Regions from separate parts of the Homo sapiens genome. Here region 2 is linked to region 1. A link means that fine-mapping ties the variant in region 1 to the expression of a gene that starts in the linked region. Tissue or cell type: unexposed skin. Region 1 holds a variant in brackets; the other region holds the start of a gene. All regions are shown on one strand. Distances are between the middles of the regions.

The links. PIP is the estimated chance that this variant, and not a neighbour inherited with it, causes the effect.
Region 2: it holds the start of ARL4D, and the variant in region 1 is fine-mapped to the expression of ARL4D in unexposed skin (GTEx, PIP 0.99).

Annotation. Positions count from the first base shown.
Region 1 is chr17:43,436,739-43,447,763 of GRCh38, forward strand. It overlaps MIR2117HG (MIR2117 host gene), which reads left to right and starts at 7,969. Exons shown (of 2, transcript NR_146952.1): 1 at 7,969-8,170. MIR2117 (microRNA 2117) reads left to right here and starts at 8,068; the gene lies at 8,068-8,147. It also overlaps the pseudogene RNU6-406P. RefSeq lists an enhancer at 1,928-2,692. The variant C/A (reference allele first, on the strand shown) is at 4,640.
Region 2 is chr17:43,394,052-43,403,765 of GRCh38, forward strand. It overlaps ARL4D (ARF like GTPase 4D), which reads left to right and starts at 4,942. Exons shown (of 2, transcript NM_001661.4): 1 at 4,942-5,042; 2 at 5,610-7,086. The coding sequence starts at 5,682. The coding sequence ends at 6,287. It also overlaps the pseudogene RNU6-1137P. RefSeq lists an enhancer at 5,066-5,569.

The DNA of each region.
Region 1 (11,025 bases):
GGTGACAAAGCGAGACTCCGTCTCAAAAAAAAAAATGCTTTGTTTTTTGTTTTGTTGTGTTTTTTTGAGAGTTTCCCTCTGTTGCCCAGGCTGGAGTACAATGGCACCATCTCAGCTCACTGCAACCTCCGCCTCCCGGATTCAAGTGATTCTCTTGCCTCAGCTTCCTGAGTAGCTGGGATTACAGGCATGCGCCACCACACCCAGCTAATTTTGTATCTTTAATAGAGAAGGGGTTTCTCCATGTTAGTCAGGCTTGTCTCGAACTCCCGAACTCAGGAGATCTGCCCACTTCAGCCTCCCAAAGTCCTGGGATTACAGGCGTGAGCCACCGTGCCCATCCTTATTTATTTATTTATTTATTTTTGAGATAGTGTCTTGCTCTGTCATTCAGGCTGGAGTGCAATGACATGATCTTGTCTCACTGCAACCTCCACCTCCTAGGTTCAAGGATTCTCCTGCCTCAGCCCCCCAAGTAGCTGGGATTACAGGCATGCACCACCATGCCCCACTCATTTGTATATTTTTAGTAAAGGAGGGGTTTCGCCATGTTGGCCAGGCTGGTCTTGAACTCCTGACCTCGGGTCATCCGCCCTCCTCGGCCTCCCACAATGTTGGGATTACAGGCAGGAGCCACCATGCCCAGCCTCTTTCAGTTTTATTTCTATGCATAACAAAATGGCATTATGCGATGGCTTGTGTTTTTTTTTTTGTTTTTTTGTTTGTTTGTTTGTTTGTTTGTTTTTGAGACAGGGTCTGGCTCTGTCATCCAGGCTGGAGTGCAGTGGTGCGATCTTGGCTCACTGCAACCTCCACCTCCTGGGCTCAAGCTATCTTCCCACCTCAGCCTCCCAAGTAGCACAGGCCACCACACCCAGCTAATTTTTTATTTTTTGTAGAGATGGGGTGGTCTAAAACTCCTGGGCTCAAGTGATCTTCCTGTCTCGGCCTCCCAAAATGCTGGGATTACAGGTGTGAACCACTGCGCCCAACCCTGATTTTTTATCTTCACTTAGCAATATATCATGAACATTTGCCTTTGTTAGTAAATATTCTTCTATAGCAAGAATATTGAATATTAGTTGGCAAGCTTTTTCTATAAAGGTCTAGGTAGCAAATGTTTCAGGCTTTGTGGGCCATACAGTTTGTTGCAACTCTGTTGTTCTAGCATGAAAACAGCCATAGACAACACATAAACAAATGAGTGTGGCTGTGTTTCAATAAAACTTTATTTACAAAAACAGGATGGACATTCATTTGGCTTGTGGGTGTGTTTCCTGACTCCTGTCTTATAGCACGGTTTCTTTTTTAGAGCTCACTAAGATCCCATTGTATGTCTACTCTGCAATTTTTATTCTCTTAACCTTGAATATTTAGTTCATTTCCATTTTTTAATATTACAGAGAATCACTGCAAGTAATATCTGTGCATCTTTGTCTCCCCTGTCCACCCCCAAGATAAATTTCTAAAAGTGTATTGATGGGCCATGGGTTTTGCCTAATTTTTAGAGCTTGCGACTCAAATTGCCCAGTGGCCCTTCAGGAAGTACAGGAGAGGGCTGCCCACTTCTTGCATCTTTGCCAAAACTGGGTATTAAAATTCCTTTTAATCTTTGTCAATATACTTTGTCAATATACTTTTTTTTTTTTTTTTTGACACGGAGTCTCACTTTGTCGCCAGGCTGGAGTGCAGTGGCATGATCTTGGCTCACTGCAACCTCTGCCTCCCGGGTTCAAGCAATTCTTTCGCCTCAGCCCCCCGAGTACTGGGACTACAGGCACGCGTCACCATGCCCAGCTAATTTTTGTATTTTTAGTAGAGACAGGGTTTCACCAGGTTGGCCAGGATGGTCTCGATCTCTTGACCTCGTGGTCCGCCCTCCTTGGCCTCCCAAAGTGCTGGAATTACAGGCGTGAGCCACCGTGCCCAGCCGATATATACTTTAAAATATTTTTAACTGTAATTTTAATCCCATGGCATCTTAATTTAATGGTTTTTGTCACCACAAAACCGGTGTTTGCAGATCATGAAGCAAAGATACATGTGTCCTTTGTCTCCAAGGTGCTGGCTTTTGACATGCTGTGAAACTGCCCCAAGGGACAGTCAGATAAAACAAATTACTTGCTTCAGAAGCAAACCCTGTCTGTCAAGTTATTGGATACAAGCTGAGACCCCAGAGCCCTGCTCACAGATAAGTATTCAGTGGAGAAAGTAGGAAGATTACTATAAGTCTGAAGTTAAATATCCTCTTTTTCCGACCTCCAGTAAAGGGAAATGTATTTTGGAACTTATGTAAAAATGTCTTTGTGATTTTTGCCTTAGAAAACAAACCTGACTCCTTTGTTTTAAGTCCAAGGGCTGATGGTCCACCCCCAGGGATGGGGGGTGTGTCCTGTCACACAGGAGGTGGTGCTTTGTGTGGCTTCCAGTCTCTGCTGGCTCTTTAGGAGTTCAATTTGGGAAAGGGAAAAATAAGGCAACTTAAGTTGCTGCCATCAGTTCCTGGGATGAATGGCTAAGTGATGATGCTGATGAACAATTTGCAGCTAAGAGGCTGTTTGGGAGTTGAAGAATAGCCCATGATTGCAGATAAACACCACCTGCCATGCTGTCCACCGCAGCCCCCCTTCTACTTGGGAGGCAGAGGTTCTCCTTTTCCTTCTCTCTCCATTGCTTTTATGCTAATGCTTTAGAGCTGGATGAGAAAACCGGATTTATAGAAAGTCTAGTTGGTTCCTCTGGCAAAAGCCATTTCCAATTGAAGCTTGTCTACATTTTAACTAAATCAGAAAAATGGTGGCTGCAGAGGCTCTTTAAAAAAAAAAAGAAAAAATTATTGGCCGGGCGCGGTGGCTCACGCCTGTAATCCCAGCACTTTGGGAGGCCGAGGGGGGCAGATCACGAGGTCAGGAGATCGAGACCATCCTGGCTAACACGGTGAAACCCCATCTCTACTAAAAATACAAAAAATTAGCTGGGCGTGGTGGTGGGCGCCTGTAGTCGCAGCTACTCGGGAGGATGAGGCAGGAGAATGGCTTGAAAACCCAGGAGGCGGAGCTTGCAGTGAGCCGAGACTGAGCCACTGCACTCCAGCTTAGGCGACAGAGCCAGACTCCACCTCAAAAAAAAAAAAAAAAAAAAAAAAGTTTACCCTACTTTCAAGCCAACGAGTTATTTTTTTGTTTATTATTATTATTTTATTTATTTATTTGCTTTTTGCAGAGGCTCTTTCCTGGTCCTTGATGGTCCCCTTTGTGTGGACTGTGGACATCATGATTGTTGGAATGCAGATTCCATGGCCCTACACCGGATCCCTGGTAGGCTGGGAATCTGCATTTTGACAAGCTTGCCTAGGTGATTTCATAAACTCTAAGGCAGTGGGTCCTAAACCTAGGTGAGCCTCATAATTAATTGGAGGGTGTTAAAAACTATAGATCATCAAGCCCTGGTCCCTGGAGATCCCGATTCCACAGGCCAGAATCTGTGGAAGAGTTCTTGCAAGGGACTCATGGAAGCAGCCAGGTCTAGGAATTACTACCTTAAGGAAATTACTGGAGGTGAAATATTCAGACTCTCTTATTCATTCTACAAGACCTAGAGCAGAAGAGGCCAGAAGGGGGCCGGAGGTGCCAGGATCCTTTCTGGGGCTGCCTTTGTGTTTATCTTTGGACCTGGGCTGATTGCTTGGAACCAGGCAAGCAGTAACTACAGAGTTTAGAAGCACTTTGGATCAGCCCCTCATTTGCTTGTGGGAGGGAATTGCAACCGCAGACACTCGTTTCATCACTGAGCATGTCTGAGCTGGGGGAGGATATGGGGTGGGATGGCAAGGGCATTGGACTAAGCAGGCCTAAAATATTTTGGGTTTTTTTGTTGTTGTTGTTGTTGTTTGAGATGGGGGTCTTGCTATGTTGCCCAGGCTGGTTTCAAACTCCTGTGCTCAAATGATCTGGCCTCAGACGCCTGAGTAGCTGAGACTGCAGGTGCACACCACTGTGCCCGGCTAGAAAATGTTTACTCTAAGTTTAGTCAATTCTGTCAACTTGAGCAACTTTACCTAATGTCTCTGATCTTCAGAGTTTTTATTCGTAAAATGAATATAACTCTCATTGTAAACATTATATACGGCCAGGTGCGGTGGCTCACGCCTGTAATCCCAGCACTTTGGGAGGTTGAGACGGGCATATCACGAGGTCAGGAAATCGAGACCATCGTGGCTAACACAGTGAAACCCCATCTCTACTAAAAATACAAAAAAAAATTTACCGGGCCTGGTAGCAGGCGCCTGTGGTCCAAGCTACTCGGGAGGCTGAGGCAGGAGAATTGGCGTGAACCCAGGAGGTGGAGCTTGCAGTGAGCCGAGATCGCACCACTGCACTCCAGCCCTGGTGACAGAGCGAGACTCCATCTAAAAAAAAAAATTTATATACAATTTATTAATATAACAAAGAATGGAAATAATAAATAGCACTATGGCAATGCACTAAATCACAGAAATGCAAATTCAAACCAACTTGAAGTATAATTTCACATACATGGACGGTTTTTTTTTTTTTTTTGAAATGGAGTCTCACTCTGTCACCCAGGCTGGAGTGCAGTGGCATGATCACAGCTCACTACAGCCTCTGCCTCCCAAGTT[C/A]CAGCAATTCTCCTGCCTCAGCCTCCCAACTAGCTAGGACTACAGGTGCCCACCACCACACCTGGCTAATTTTGTATTTTTAGTAGAGACAGGATTTCACCATGTTGGCCAGGCTGGTCTCAAACTCCTGACCTCAGGTGATCCCCCCGCCTCGGCCTCCCAAAGTGCTGGGATTACAGGCGTGAGCCACCGCACCCAGCCAAGATTTTTAATATTAAAGTAGTCTGGGTGTGGTTCATGCTACTGGATAGGTTACACTCTATACAAATGAAGGATTCTGCCCAGGACCAATAAGAGGCAGAGCTCTGCCCAGGACCAATCAAAGGCATCCCATCTGTGACCTATGAGCAAATGAAGGTTTCAGAATGGACCATTTACAGAAATTCCCGTTTTTGACATAAGGGAGGGGAGGTTCAGAGAGGGAAGGGCCTATCCAGTGGCTCATGCCTGAAATCCCAGCATTTTGAGAGGCTGAGGCTGGAGGATGGCTTGAGGCCAGGAGTTTGAGGCTGCAATTGAGGCAGGAGAATAGTGTCTGGAGGCAGGAAACCTAAGGCCAACCCACAGCTGCCTTCTTGGAATTGGACTGAAAGAAAAACCCCACCTTTCCATGACCAAGTGATGAGGGGCCAAAGGCCCCTCTCTCTCTGAACCTCCCCTCCCTTATGTCAAAAATGGGAATTTCTGTAAATGGTCCATTCTGAAATCTTCATTTGCTCATAGGTCACAAGTGGGATGCCTCTGATTGGTCCTGGGCAGAGTTCTGCGTCTTATTGGTCCTGGGCAGAATCTTTCATTTGTATAGAGTGTAACCTATCAGACGCTGCTAAAGGGTGCTTAGGGGTGTTACCATGCTCTTTCAATTCAATGAAAACCCCAAGAAACTTTACAATCAGGGTTCTTGAGCCACTCTGTGGAGTGCACTTTCACTTCAATAAATGTATGCTTTCATCTTCTATTGTTTTGTCTGTGCATTTTGTTCAATTCTTTGTTCAACACGCCAAAAACCTGGACAACTCAGTCAAGGCTTCCCATCCTATAACACAATGAGCTATGATTGTGCCACTGCACTCAGTCTGGGCGACAGAGTGAGACCCTGCCTCTACAATAATAATAATAATAAAATAAAAGTAGATTTGTGCAATGGAACACTATGCAGGCATTAAAAAAATCATTCATTATGAAGACCATGTAGCAACAAGGAAAACATTTATAAATGTTTAGTGAAAATAGCAGAACCCCAGATGGTATACCCTTTGACTATAACCGTGCACACTGAGAGAGAGCATGTAGACAGGGCCAGGAGGTAACATGCAAAACAGGGTAGTTGTGCAGAGGATAGGCTTATAGTTACTTTTTTCTTTGCCAAAATTAAAAACAATTTTACTGTTACATTCTTTTTTCATAATAGGAATGACTAATTCCTGCCCTTCTACCATGCTGGCTTGTTCAGCGGACCAAATGAAAAACTGAGAAAACTGTTGTGTCTTCCCGTAGGATGTTGGAGTGAATCTACCATGCATGACTCATGTTTCCATCCCTATCATCCTGGGTAGGGAAGCACCAAGCTGAGGACTCTGGATCCTTTCAGGCTCTAATGACAATGCACATCCAGCATTTGTGGAGTATGTATACAGTTGTCTGGGCCAACTACTGTGGGAAGAGGAAAAGAAGTCACATTGCTACTGGTCATCAAGAGCTCACAAAATAGATGTAGACATCATTTGGGGCTATCTACTTATCCTAGTGATTCTCAACTGAGGTTGATACTTAAATTTTTTTTTTTCATTTTCTTTTTTTTTTAAGTTTCAAGAGGTTGATACTTTTGATTGTCACAATGATTGGCTTTTGATTGTCACAATGATTGGGAGCGTTATTACCACTCACATATAGTAAATGAAGGATGGGATAGTCCTACACAAAAAATTATCTAGCTCCAAATGTCCTCAGTGTCTCTGATGAGAAACACTGATCTAGTCCATAGTCAGGGCTGCCAGGTATGGGTGTGCAGGTTGCCCACTGTACAACTCTTAAGGGAACCATTCACCTGGTGGCTAAGTGTGTCAATTCTGAAACCATACTGCCTGAGTTCCAGTGCCAACTGGAACTGCCCCCCACCCCCTACTTCTTTTTTTTTTTTTGAGACCGAGTCTTTCTCCACCACCCAGGCTGCAGTCCAGTGGCACAGTCACAGCTCACTGCAGACTCTACCTCCCGGGCTCAAGTGATTCTCCTACCTCAGCCTCTTGAATAGCTGGGACCACAGGCACCACCACCACACCTGGTTACTTTTTAAATTTTTTGTAGAGATAAGGTCTCCCTATGTTGCCCAGGCTGGACTCAAAACTCTGAGGCTCAGGTGATCCTCCTGCCTCGGCCTCCCAAAGTGCTGGGATTACAGGTGTGAGCCACCGGACCTGGCCTGGAAGCTCTTGAACATATTGCTTATCTTCTGTGGACCTCAGTTTCCTCATTTATAAAATGGGAAGAGCAATAGTAATATAACTCATACTGATAACATAAGAATATGTTATCAATAATATATGTTCCTGCACATAGCAGACATTCAATTCATGTTCAATGATTATTATTCTCTGAGATCTGACTTCCCCATTGACTGGGGTGGGGCCCTGGTGTCTACTCCCTGATAAAGACCACGTATGCCTGGATTCCTGCTCTCCCTGAGGCTTAACTTTCCTGGTTCCACCTGTAATCTCATTGAGAACTCCCATTGTTGCCTAAACTTGCTTGAGATGGTTTTTGTAATCTACAACCAGAAGTCTTAATTACTAAGACAAGGTGAAAAGACTCACCTGTAGGAAACACAGTAGATAATACAAAAGGGCTTTCAAGTTAGTGTGAGACTGCTTGGCATAGAAAGACGATAAATGCCACAGACAAAACCTAATCGTAACTGAAATAAATAAATTCGAACAACAAATTGTTAAGTGAATGGAATGCAGCTAGCTAGGATCTCATGCTCTGTTCTAAGAAAACAGACAGGTCAAACAATCAGGACCAGTCCAGACATGTGTCTGGGAAGTTAAAGGAAAGAGACCCTGTCCCTCAAAACCTTCCTTACTAGTGACTCATGTCTTCGTTTACCAGGAGGTCTTCTTTGAAAATATGAATGTTTCTGGGAAGGGTAATCCAGAAACCTACTGAGGCTCACCCTACTAGGAATGTATTTACCATTTTTCTTTTCTTTCATGTCTGTTCATTGAGAACACAGAGAATGTATTTATTCAGTGACTTTCTCTCTCCTCCACTTCCCAACCCCAGCTACAAATGGGGACAGCAAGAGAGAGAAAACCTGGGGAGAACGGAAGAAACCATGCTTTGTAGAATGGATCCTGCTTCAGAATTGCTGATCTCATCAACCACATGTTTATAGAGAGAGCAGTGGCCCTTAAGGAACTGGAGAGAATGCTCTGATTTACTTCTGTCCGGCATGGTGAACAGCAGGATTGGCTGTAGCTGTTCTCTTTGCCAAGGACAGATCTGATCTGATTGCCTTGAGGTGAAAGTGAGGTAAGGTGGGGCGGGGATTAGCTTTTGGCTCCCAAGAATGGTTGTTCATCAACCTTTTGCTAAGCCCGTGGTTCTCAAATTTTGCTGCATGTTAGAATCACCTGGGAAGCTTTAAAAAAACATCTCAGTACCCAGGTTGTACCTCAGACCAATTAAATCTGAATGCCTGGGGGCGGTTGCCAGGCATCAGAAGTTTTCAAAGACCTCCCCCAACCAGGTGGTTCCTGGACATGTACCCACGTCCGGGAACCACTGTCCTCAGCATTTATTGTATGAGGCAACTTAGGTGACACACAACAGGTGAGAACCTGGCTCCTGCCTTTCGGACACAGGACTTAATTTTTTTTTTATTTTTTAAATTATGCAGTAAAATTTTTTCTGTTGGTGTACAGGTCTATGAATTTTTTTATACTGAGTTTTTCATACTGCCTGAGTACAATTTAATGGTATACCATAAAGTATACCATAATTTTATGGTATACCGTAACATTTTACATACCATAATTTTATTTTTATAAAGTATACCCACAATTTTATGGTATACCATAAAACTAGTATAGTATACCACAAAATTTACCCTTTTAAATTATACAATTCAATGCTCACTTCAGCAGCACATATACTAAAATTGGAATGATACAAAGAAAATTAGCATGACCCTTGCTCAAAGATGACACTGTAATTTGTGAAGTGTTCCATATTTAAAAAAAAATTTTTTTTAAAGTGTACAACTCAGCCATATGCAGTGGTTCCCACCTGTAATCCCAGGGTTTTGAGGCCAGGCACGGTGGCTCACGCCTATGATCTCAACACTTTGGGAGGCCGAGGTGGGTAGATCACCTGAGGTCAGGTGTTCAAGACCAGACTGTCCAATATGGTGAAACATCATCTCTACTAAAAATACAAAAACTAGCCGGGCATGGTGGTGTGTGCTTGTAATCCCAGCTACTCGGGAGCCTGAGGCGAGAGAATCGCTTGAACCCAGGAGGCGGAGGTTGCAGTGAGCCAAGATTGTGCCACTGCTCTCCAGCCTGGGTGACAGAGCAAGACTCTGTCTCAAAAAAAAAAAAAAAGGCTGGGTGTGGTGGCTCACACCTGTAATCCCCAGTACTTTGGGAGGCCGAGGCGGGCAGATCACCTGAGGTCAGGATTTCCAGACCAGCCTGACCAACATGGTGAAACCCCATCTCTACTAAAAATACAAAATTAGCCGGGCATGGTGGCGCATGCCTGTAATCCCAGCTGCTCAGGAGGCTGAGGCAGGATAATTGCTTGAACCCGGGAGGTGGAGGTTGCGGTGAGCCAAGATCTCGCCATTGCACTTCAGCCTAGGCAAGAAGAGTGAAGCTCTGTCTCAAAAAAAACAATCCCAGGGTTTTGGGATGCCTAGGCGGAGGCTCACTTGAGGCCAGGAGTTTGAGACCAGCCTGGGCAATGCAGCGAGACCCTGTCTCTACCAATAAATGAATGAATGAATAAATAAATAAATAAATAAATAAATAAATAAATAAATAAATAAAATTAGCTGGGGATGGTGGCAAGTGCCTTTAATCCTAGCTGCTCAGGAGGCTGAGACAGGAGGATTGCTTGAGCCCAAGAGTTTGGGGTTACAGTGAGCTATGATCACGTCACTACACTCTGGCTAGGGTGACAGAGAAAGACCTTGTCTCTAAAAAAGAGAGGAAAACAAGTTACCAAATTATACAATTATCTGTTCAGACCTAGATTTACAAGAAAAAAAATGTAAAATTTCGTGTTTTTAGTATATTTGTAAAGTTGTGCCACCATCACCAGTAATTCCAGAACATTTTTATCTCGTCTCCCCAAAATACCCCGAATCCACAGTAGCTTCTCCCCATTTCCCCTTCCGCCCACCCCCTGGCAAATACGAGCCATAGAGACTCTCTCCCTCTATGGCTTTGCCTACTCTTGATATGTCACATAAATGAAATCACACAATCTGTGGCCTTTTATGTCAAGCTTATTTCACTTAGCATGCTGTTTTCAGGGTTTATCTGTGTTGTAGCATGTATTAGTACTACATTCCTTTTTATTGATGAATAATATTCCATTGTATGGATATACCACATTTCATTTATCTATTCATCAGCTGATGGACATTTGGGTTGTTTGCACTTTTTGGCTATTGTGAATAATGCGGCTATAAACATTCTTGTACAAGTTTTTGTGTGAATGTATATTTTCATTTTCTTGGTCTTGGATACTTTTTTTTTTTTCTGAGACGGAGTCTTGCTCTGTCGCCTAGGCTGGAGTACAGTGGTGCAATCTCGGCTCACTGCAACCTCTGCCTGCTGAGTTCAAGCAATTCTCCTGCCTCAGCCCCCCAAGTAGCTGGGATTACAGATGTGTACCACCACACCCGGCTACTTTTTATATTTTTATTAGAGACAGGGTTTTGCCATATTGGCCAGACTGATCTTGAACTCCTGACCTCAAGTGATCTGCCTGCCTTGGCCTCCCAAAGTGCTGGGATTACAGGCATGAGCCACCGAAACCGACCCATAAATCTTTTTATATAGGTGTGATTTCAGCTTAACATTAGTAAAAAAAAATTTCATAAATTTCTTTTCATTTGAGCTATTTTGCAATAGAATGAATGACTGGCTGCTTCACTGGGACTATTAATTCTACAAATATTTATTGAATGCCTACTATATGCCAAGCATTGTTTTTCTCCCATTTGGTGATTATTTATACTTTTATTTTTAGTTTACATGTAATGATTGTACATATTTATGGGATTCAGATTGATACTTCTTTTTTGTTTGTTTGTTTGAGACAGTCTCGCCCTGCCTCCCAGGCTGGAGTGCAGTGGTACAATTATGGCTCCCTGC
Region 2 (9,714 bases), 43 kb before region 1:
ACAAAGGAACCTGAATAACTTCATCCACTAAGACTCCGCTTTTCTTCACCAATCAGGCGGTGACAAATACATCCACCAGGGGGCAGCATCTACTTATTTCTAGCCCCTGGCTCCACCCTAGGCCTTGATTTTGGGGTGGTTGCCAGGGAAAGAGTTCCTGGTTGGGGAGAAGGGTATCTTTGGGGCCCTTTCGCACATTTTTGCCCCACACTCATACTTAGCGATAGGTTGGGTTTTCTCAATTTTGTTCATGAGGAAACAGAACTGGGATTTGAAAAATGGGCCTTCGTGATTGCCGAGCTGGTAACTGCTCCGTGGCGTCCATTCCCCCACCCCACCCCCTACTCCTGCAGACTCCTCTTTCCCTCGTTTGTTCACGAAGACAAGTACTTGGTTAAGATGCTGCAGAGACAAGGATGTTCTCAGCCACTTCCTAGAAGAGCTCCACCCATCCTCCTACCCTCCCTTACTTCAGAGCATGGGCTGTTATGGGGAAACGACCTGGAGACATCTAAAGCCCCTCATTACAGGATGAGGAAACCGAGGCTCCCAGGTGGGGAAGTTACTTTTTTTTGAGACGGAGTCTCGCTCTGTCGCCCAGGCTGGAGTGCAGTGGCGCAATTCGGCTCACTGCAACCTCCGCCTTCCCGGTTCCAGCTATTCTCCTGCTTCAGCCTCCGGAGTAGCTGGGACTACAGGCGTGCGCCACCACGCCCTGCTAATTTTTTTGTATTTTTAGTAGAGACGAGGTTTCAACATGTTGGCCAGGCTGGTCTTGAACTCCTAACTTCAGGTGATCCATCCGCCTCAGCCACCCAAAGTGTTGGCATTATAGGCGCGAGCCACTGGGCCCGGCCGGAAGTGGCTTTTTACTTTTTCAAGTCACTCTACTAGTGAGGAATGGAAGGATGGGACTCACGCACTGAATCTCAGTCTGGTGTTCCAGCATGTCCTAAGGGCAACCTGTCTCTCCAGTGTCATCCCCATTTTTGGTCCTTGTTTTTCTCCTTTAAGTTCCTCCTCTCCAATAAAGGCCTGAGAGTTCTATACTACTCAGACACTGCCTAGAAATGCAGGGTTTGTAGGAATTCCTGGCCAACCCAGTATCAACAGAACCCCCAAGGGCCCAAGGGCCCAAGGACCCCAGGCTGGGAAACTCCCACGCTAAGGGTGGAGGTTTGGTTCTCCTACTCAGGGAGCCCTCTGAGTACATTTATTCCATCATGCATTCATTAATTCACACAAGATTTTCTGACTGCCTATGTGTGCCAGGCATGGTGCTGGGCATGGTAGAGCTACAGATAAGAACCAGCTGCTGCCCTTGATCACGTAGTCTGGTGGAGGAGACAGCTCTGAGGAAGAATGATGCTTATCTGACTCAGTGTCACTTAAACCTTGGCTCAGCGTCGCCGCTTTGAAACTTTCTCCTGCACACTCTTCCACCAATCTAAAGTAGTTCTCCAGCCACATGTGGTGGCACGCACCTGTAATCCCAGCTACTCAGGAGTCTGAGGCGGAGGATCTCTTGAACCGAAGAGTTCAAGGCTGCAGTAAGCTATGGTCTCGCCACTGCACTCCAGCCTGGGTGACAGAGTGAGACCTTGTCTTTAAAAAAAAAAAAAAAAGGCCGGGCGCGGTGGCTCATGCCTGTAATCCCGGCACTTTGGGAGGCCGAGGCGGGCGGATCACGAGGTCAGGAGATTGAGACCATCTTGGCTAACACGGTGAAACTCCGTCTCTACTAAAAATACTAAAAATTAGCTGGGCGCGGTGGCGGGCACCTGTAGTTCCAGCTACTCGGGAGGCTGAGGCAGGAGAATGGCATGAACCCGGGAAGTGGAGCTTGCAGTGAGCCGAGATAGCGCCACTGCAGTCCGCCCTGGGCAAAACAGCGAGACTCCGTCTCAAAAAAAAAAAAAATTATTTTTATTTTAATTTTGAAAAAATAGGGAATGCTTCATGAATTTGCAAGTCATCCTTGCACGGGGCCATGCTAATTTCTGTATCGTTCAAAAAAAAATGATTGCTTAATGTACAAATGTTCAGATGTTCTCTGCAGGGATTAGTGTAAGCCCATAGCTTAGTGCTACCTGGACGAGCTGGGCCCCTTTTTTTACCCCTCCCCAGCCCCACCTTCTCCTTCCCATTTGTTCATTAACACCTTCTCTGGCAAACATGAAAGACGGAAGGGTGGGGTAGGATTGTCAGTTTCATTTCCTTTATCAGATAAGTGACAATTTCTGTCTTGGATGTGAGTCCCAAGACAGATTATAGGAGCCATGTTAAAGAAGCTTCAAAGATTGTGGAAGAAACAAGACAACTTGTGTATTTTCAGTTTTTGTGTGTTTTCAGTCTCATAGCCATTGTAACATTTGTTCAAAGCCAGGTTTGGCCAGTTTCTAGCTGGATGACCTTCAACAAATTACCTAACCTTTCTGTGCTTCAGTTTCTTCTTTTTAGACTAACCATACTTACTTCATGGGCTTGACTTGTGTATTAAAAAAGGAAAAGTAAGCAAAGTTCCTAGACCAGAGCCTGGCATGCAGTGGCCACTCAACAGTGCAGTGGTTCTCAACCGCTGGGCCTGCTCCGTCTTCCCCTCTCCTAACTTCACCATGCTCAGGTCTGTCTCCTGTACGTTAGCTGCTGCTGCAACCTGTCACCCTCCAACTTGGGGTGTAACAAACTAATTTCCTAAGGTCTTAATCTTAGACTAATTTCCTAAGGTCTTTAGGGATTTGGGGAGGCTCCCTGCATTGCTGGGGAAACCAGGTGGCTGGTTTTGTAGTGGAGGGGAGAAAAAGGAGGTGGCAAAGCACACTGGTGACAAACAGATGGGAAGCTTATTTATCAGCACTTGATTGAGGAGGGTGGGCAGGAAAAGGCTGGGCCGTGCTGTCTGGCAATGACTTCCCTTCTCCTTTTTCCAATCCCTCTCACACATAGCCCTTAAAAAGATTAATACTGAATTACACAATAAATAAAATAATCCACGCCTGTAAATCCCAACACTTTGGGAGGTCGAGGCGGGCGGATCACCTGAGATCGGGAGTTCGAGACCAGCCTGACCAACATGGAGAAATCCTGTCTGTACTAAAAGTACAAAATTAGCCGGGCGTGGTGGCACATGCCTATAATCCCAGCTACTCGGGAGGCTGAGGCAGGAGAATTGCTTGAACCTGGGAGGTGGAGGTTGCAGTGAGCCGAGATCGCACCATTGGACACCAGCCTGGGTAACAAGAGCAAAACTCTGTCTCAAAAATAAATAAATAAATAAATAAATAAATAAATAGATAAAGTTACAATTTACAATTTCATTCTTCTTTGATTGGCCCTCTTCTCTCCCCCACCTAATTGCTGTTGTCCTTTTGGTCACACTGCCCTTTGTGACATCTCCTTCCTTTCAGGGCTGCCCAGACTGTAGCAGGCTGCAGTGGCTGGGGAGACCCTACTCATTCCTGTGCCCCTCCTAACCAGTCCTAGATAGGGCTAAAGAACGTCTATAAACCTTTTCAGAAGCTTCCAGTTGACACATTCTCTCTCTTCTCTGAAATCCTACAAGTGCTATCTCATGATTTACAAAGACCCAATACATGTGCTGTCTCATTCTGTCATTGCCAGTCTTAAGTCTTAAGCCCTTTGAGGCCTGATTCTACAGCCGAGACATCCTCTATTTCTCCACCATCTCTCTGTCTCATTCAGAGCACACAGTATGAATGAGGTCAATAAACACAGTGTTTTTTGTTTTGTTTTGTTTTGTTTTTGTTTTTTTTGAGACAGAGTCTTGCTCTGTTGCCCAGGCTGGAGTGCAATGGTGTGATCTCAGCTCACTGCAACCTCCGCCTCCCGGGTTCAAGTGATTCTCCTGCCTCAGCCTCCCGAATAGTTGCAATTACAGGCGCCCGCCACCACACCCAGCTAATTTTTGTATTTTTAGTAGAGACGGGGTTTCACCATGTTGGCCAGGCTGGTCTCGAACTCCTGACCTCAGGTGCTTCGCCCACATCGGCCTCCCAAAATGCTGGTATTACAGGCGTGAGCTACCGTGCCCAGCCCAATAAACACACTGGTTTTTTTTTTTTGTTTGCTTTGTTTTGAGACAGAGTCTTGCTCTGTCGCCCAGGCTGGAATGCAGTGGCGCTATCTCAGCTTACTGCAACCTCCGCCTCCCGGGTTCAAGCGATTCTCCTGCCTCAGCCTCCCGAGTAGCTGGGATTACAGGCACCCGCCACCACGCCCGGCTAATTTTTGTCTTTTTATTACTGATGGGGTTTCACCCTGTTGTCCAGGCTGGTGGAACTCCTGAGCTTAAGTGATGTGCCTGCCTCAGCCTCCCAAAGTGCTGAGTTTACAGGTATGATCCACTGCGCCTAAACATACTGTTGAGTGTAACCTCAAATAGGTCATTTAACCCTTCAGGGCTTTGTGTATCTGTAAAAGGCAGACAACAGTCCCTAACAGGCTATTGCAGATAATGGGCTTAGCACTATGAAGCAGCTGTTTTATGGGGCTCCAGGTTCACCTTAGGTTTGACAATTGAATTATGAAAGATAAAGGAGAAAGACTTGTCAGCCTCTCCGAGTAGATCCTTTGGCCGAAGGAGTGTCCATGTGGGGTGGTATCTCGGCCTGGTGGAGGGGGATGCGATGGTAGTGAGAATATTAGGGTATTCATATCTTTCCTCCCGAGTCAAACGTTGCCAGGCACGTTCCTTTCGCCCCTCCCACCCTCCATTCTGCATTAATTCCAAGTTTAATTCCAAATATTAGAGTGTGGTAGAAAAGGTCAAATAGAGCAGCCACGGATTAAGCAAACGCCCCTCCGCGTATGGTGGGGGCTGCAGCGCCCGTAGCTCCACGCTCCGCCCCGCCGCCGCTGATTGTCCCGCGCCTTGTGACGTCACACGCGGGTTTTTAAGGCCGAACCCTAGGCAGGCTCTGCAGAGGCAGCGGTTGGAGGCGCGGTGGGTGTCTGCGGGGGTCTCGCGGGGCGGCTGCGGTGTTTCACCGGGAAAGGCTCGAGGAGAGCGCGGCTCACGAGAGGTAAACGGACCCTGCAGACCGTGCTGAGGCGGTCCCGGTGCCGGGCCGCTGGAGCTGGGGTCGGCCATCGGAGGAGGGCGGGCGGGCAGGAGAGTGTCGCGGGGCGGTGGGGCGAGGGTCGCGGAGTAAGGAAGGGCACCGTGTCAACGGCTTGGGGCTGCGGAGGGCGGGTGGGAGCCGGACTCAATCTCCGGTCTCAGCGTCTGCACCCTAGCTCTTAGTTTGGGGGCACTGTCGACTTCCCCCGTCCCTCGGGGATCTTGCCTGGGGGATGGCGCCATAAGCTCTGAGAAGAGGCTCTAGAAGCCCACTGTCCATGGATCGAGCCCTCACCCCCCACTTGAGTGGCCCAGGACCTGGGAGTCTCTCTAGGTCCCATCGCCCCCCTCACGACCCCCCCAGGGAGTGGGGGAACACCTCTGTTATGCCTTAAAAAAAAAAAAAAAAAGGAAAGGAATTTTAAAAATGAAGGATGGGAGGGTGATTTAGGAAGGGATCAAGAAGTTGCAAATCTTGTGTGTATTATTAAACGTCTCCTTTTTCTCCCATGACCTTTTCTTGGTTCAGATAACCCAGCTGTGCTCCCTGGAACCTTCAATTTCAAGGCCTCCCTGCCTCTACTAGGCGCCTTAGCTCACTATGGGGAACCACTTGACTGAGATGGCGCCCACTGCCTCCTCCTTCTTGCCCCACTTCCAAGCCCTGCATGTCGTGGTCATTGGGCTGGACTCTGCTGGAAAGACCTCCCTCCTTTACCGCCTCAAGTTCAAGGAGTTTGTCCAGAGTGTCCCCACCAAAGGCTTCAACACCGAGAAGATCCGGGTGCCCCTCGGGGGATCGCGTGGCATCACCTTCCAAGTGTGGGACGTCGGGGGGCAGGAGAAGCTGCGACCACTGTGGCGCTCTTATACCCGCCGGACAGACGGTCTAGTGTTTGTGGTGGACGCTGCGGAGGCTGAGCGGCTGGAGGAAGCCAAGGTGGAGTTGCACCGAATCAGCCGGGCCTCGGACAACCAGGGCGTGCCAGTGCTGGTGCTGGCCAACAAGCAGGACCAGCCCGGGGCACTGAGCGCTGCTGAGGTGGAGAAGAGGCTGGCAGTCCGAGAGCTAGCAGCCGCCACTCTCACTCATGTGCAAGGCTGCAGCGCTGTGGACGGTCTGGGCCTGCAGCAGGGCCTTGAGCGCCTCTATGAGATGATCCTCAAGAGGAAGAAGGCAGCTCGGGGTGGCAAGAAGAGACGGTGACCCAAGCCCCCCCTCCCTTTCCTCCCACCTAGTAGGGGTCTGCACACTTGGACAGCAGGGTGGGACCAGCCTGTGACCTCTCAGTCAGACTGGGGTGCAGGACCTGTCCACCTCAATGAAGGAGAGAGGAGCATGGGGTGTCCCGTTTTGGTGCCACACTGGGGTGGGGATGGGAGATGGGATGTCTTTGCATATCTCTCTCATCCTCTCTGGAGAAGTGGGCGCTGCAGGACTGTGGAGACGTAAATGTAAACTGTGACTCTACCTCGACCCTGTTTCTTATTTTTCTTCTCTGGCTAAAAATTTTTAATTGGATGTGTTTGGGGGCGGGGGGATGGAAGTGACTTGGAGAATGTGTTTGGGATGAAATAACTATCTCCCCTTCCTCTGTCCCCCAACTGGGGAGTCTCCCCAGGCTGCTTTTCTAGGAATACCAGTCACATAGTTTTTATTTTTGTGTCTGTGAAAGTGCCAAGAACCCCTCCCCACATTTGTAGATCCATGACCCTTTTTATAAGCTGTGTGTGTCCTCTGTATTATTGTTATTAACTATTTTTTAGCATTTGCCTGTAAGTTATTAAAGACTGATAACTGTAGCTCTTACCTTGGTCTGGGGCATTTTCCTCTCCTTATCTTGCCCCAGAGACAATTCAAGATTTCTATATGGGGTTGTGGCGCAGGGGGAGGGAGATTTATCTTGAAGCTGAATTTGCAAAGCAAGCACTTATAAAAATTAGATTGTGTGTTACGGGATGGCTTGTGAAAATTATAGGGGGGAGTGGAAAACCCCTCAAGCTATTGCCTGATCTCTGTAGTTTTTTGGGTGGGGTCACTTCCTTTTTCTCTGATTTAACACCCCTCCCCTCATCCTCTGGGTCTTACTTGTCCCTTATATCAACTGCTCCTTGCAGATTTAACTTCAAATTTTGCTAGTCTGAGCTACTCCTAGGTTCTTGACCTTGGTGACACCTAAGTCTATATAGGTAAGTCCTCAAAGAGCCATTCTGTTCCCATCCTCCCCACTTCCCCAGTCTTAGGTTGGTTTGATTTTTTTCCTCCTTGTAAGATGTGGTGAGAGTGGAAAGTAATTCCTCCCTGGCCTTAAGTCACCTCTGTGTACTCAATCCTGCTGACTGGCTCACTGGCATGATGGCAGCGGCTGGTGCTAGGGAGGCCTGGGCTGGATTGAGCCAGCCTGGCCCTGGTGACTAAGCCATGAGTTTTCCAGCTCTGGGAATGGTAGCTCTTCTCACGAGAGGGGCAGAAGTAGTAGCTGTTTGTGCTTGGTGGCAGAGAGGACTGCTGGACATACACCCTCCAGACTCCAAGATAGAAGGGGGAAGACATAAGCCCCCAGTATTTGTGGTGATTGTAAGAATAAAATGCTAATATTACAAGGGCTTGAGTGCCCCTACTCACCAGCACCAGGGCCAGCTATGTCTGATAACAGAACCCTTAGATCCTCTTAATCTTCTGGGTGGGAGCAGTGAGTAAGAACTAAGCACAAGGCCGGGCACAGTGGCTCACGCCTGTAATCCCAGCACTTTGGGAGGCTGAGGCAGGAGGATGGCTTGGGCCCAGGAGTTCAAGACCAGCCTGGGCAACATAGGGAGACCATGTCTCTAAAAAAGAAAAAAAACAAGCACAATTCTTTCCAGTTGTCGAGCCCTCCAGCCACCCCCTGCCACCTTTTGTGCAAACACACAATCCCCAGAGCAGGTTCAGCGTTCACACCCTGCTTCTCCCCAATTCTGTCTCCTCTTCTCCGGAATCAGATGAAAGGACCTGGGGAGAAAGAGAAGGTGCCGGCAACCCCCACTTCTGGGGAAGGTTTCCTAAAGAACTTGCTTCTTCCTACCCAGCGCTGCCAGAAGCTCAGATTTGGTCCCCTCCCCATCCCTGTAGCTGGCAGGATTGGGGTGAGTGTGCATTGATCCGGAAGGGTGCCCAAGTGTGCGTCAGTGCTAGGGCCTGCTTGACAGAACTGCTGGGCTGGTTCTGCTGGGAACATGTGCTACCTGCCCCTCCCCCAGACACACCTGCGACTCCTCTCCCAGTCTTTTTGGGGCACAGTCCTATAGCCCAAGGACAGGTTGAGGCCCCAGTCCAGGCTGGAAAGGAACTGGCCAGAACTGACCCTCTGTCCTGCCAGGAGATCTTTCCTCCCCACCCCACCCAAATTCTGCTCTTTTGTCTTAAAATCTTCAATTATACATTTTCATTTCTTGTCACTTGGTGTACTTAGGTCTCCAGATTTGGGGGAAGAGGTGCAGAGGTGTTCCCCAATCCCTAGCAGAGGGGCCTCCAAGATGTCAGCTCCTGATTCTGGCTCTTCCAACCACACTCCTTCCCTACCTGCTTAAAACAGGTATCTTCTGCTTCCCCATGCCCAGCCCTGGGGGCGGTCAGGGATCATGGTCCACAGGAGGCCTTTGAATGTCCCAGGCTCTTCCCCAGTCCCTCTGGCCTGACTGTCCAGCTGGTGGCACTAAAGGAAGATGGGGGCTTGTGTCAGAGAGAGACGGAGAAGCCAACTGCTCTGCCAGAGTAGTGGGGAGAGGGGAACACTGGGGAATTCTGAGTAGAAAGCCACAAATTGTGGCCGGGTCAGAGTCAGGAGCTTTGGAATAATCCTCCTGCCTTGGCTCATCAAAGGGACTGGAGAGCTGGAAGGGAAGGGATCACTTCCTATCTGCAGGATGAGAGAGGGAGAGAGAACCTCTCACTCTCCAGTCCTGCCCAGAGATTCTGCATTTTGAACTCAGGGCAAGGGCAAGGAATGAGGGTGTGATCAGGATGGAGAGTGAGGTTATATTTGCCCTGTACTGGCTTCTCTATTAAGTAGGATTTCTTCGAGACCCTGGCATGGGTGCTGAGGAGCTCTTCCTTGGGGGCCAAGAGTGGTGTGGCTGAGGCTAGTTGCCTGTAAAGTTGAGGGAAACCTGCTGTAGACCCAGAGTTCCAGAGTAGAGGCCGTTTTTTTTTTTTTTTTTTCCTCCTCTGTTACCCAGGCTGGAGTGCAGCGGTGCGATCTTGGCTTGCTGCAACCTCCACCTCCCCGGTTCAAGTAATTCCCATGTCTCAGCCTCCCAAGTAGCTGGGATTACAGTCACGCACCACCATGCCTGGGTAATTTCTGTATCTTTAGTAGAGATGGGGTTTCGCCACGTTGATCAGCCTGGTCCTGAACTCCTGACTTCAAGTGATTTGCCTGCCTCAGCCTCCCAAAGTGCTGGGATTACAGGCGTGAGCCACCATGCCCAACCCCAGAGTTGAGGCTTTCTTCTGAGCTGTCCTTCCCCACCCAGCCACCCCTTCTTGCACAGGTTGGAACATAAAATCCAGATGGAAGCCTTCCTTTCCTGGAGCTCCTCATCATGAGGGCAAAGATGGCAGTGGTCCCCCACTTTCCCATGCCCTTTCCAGT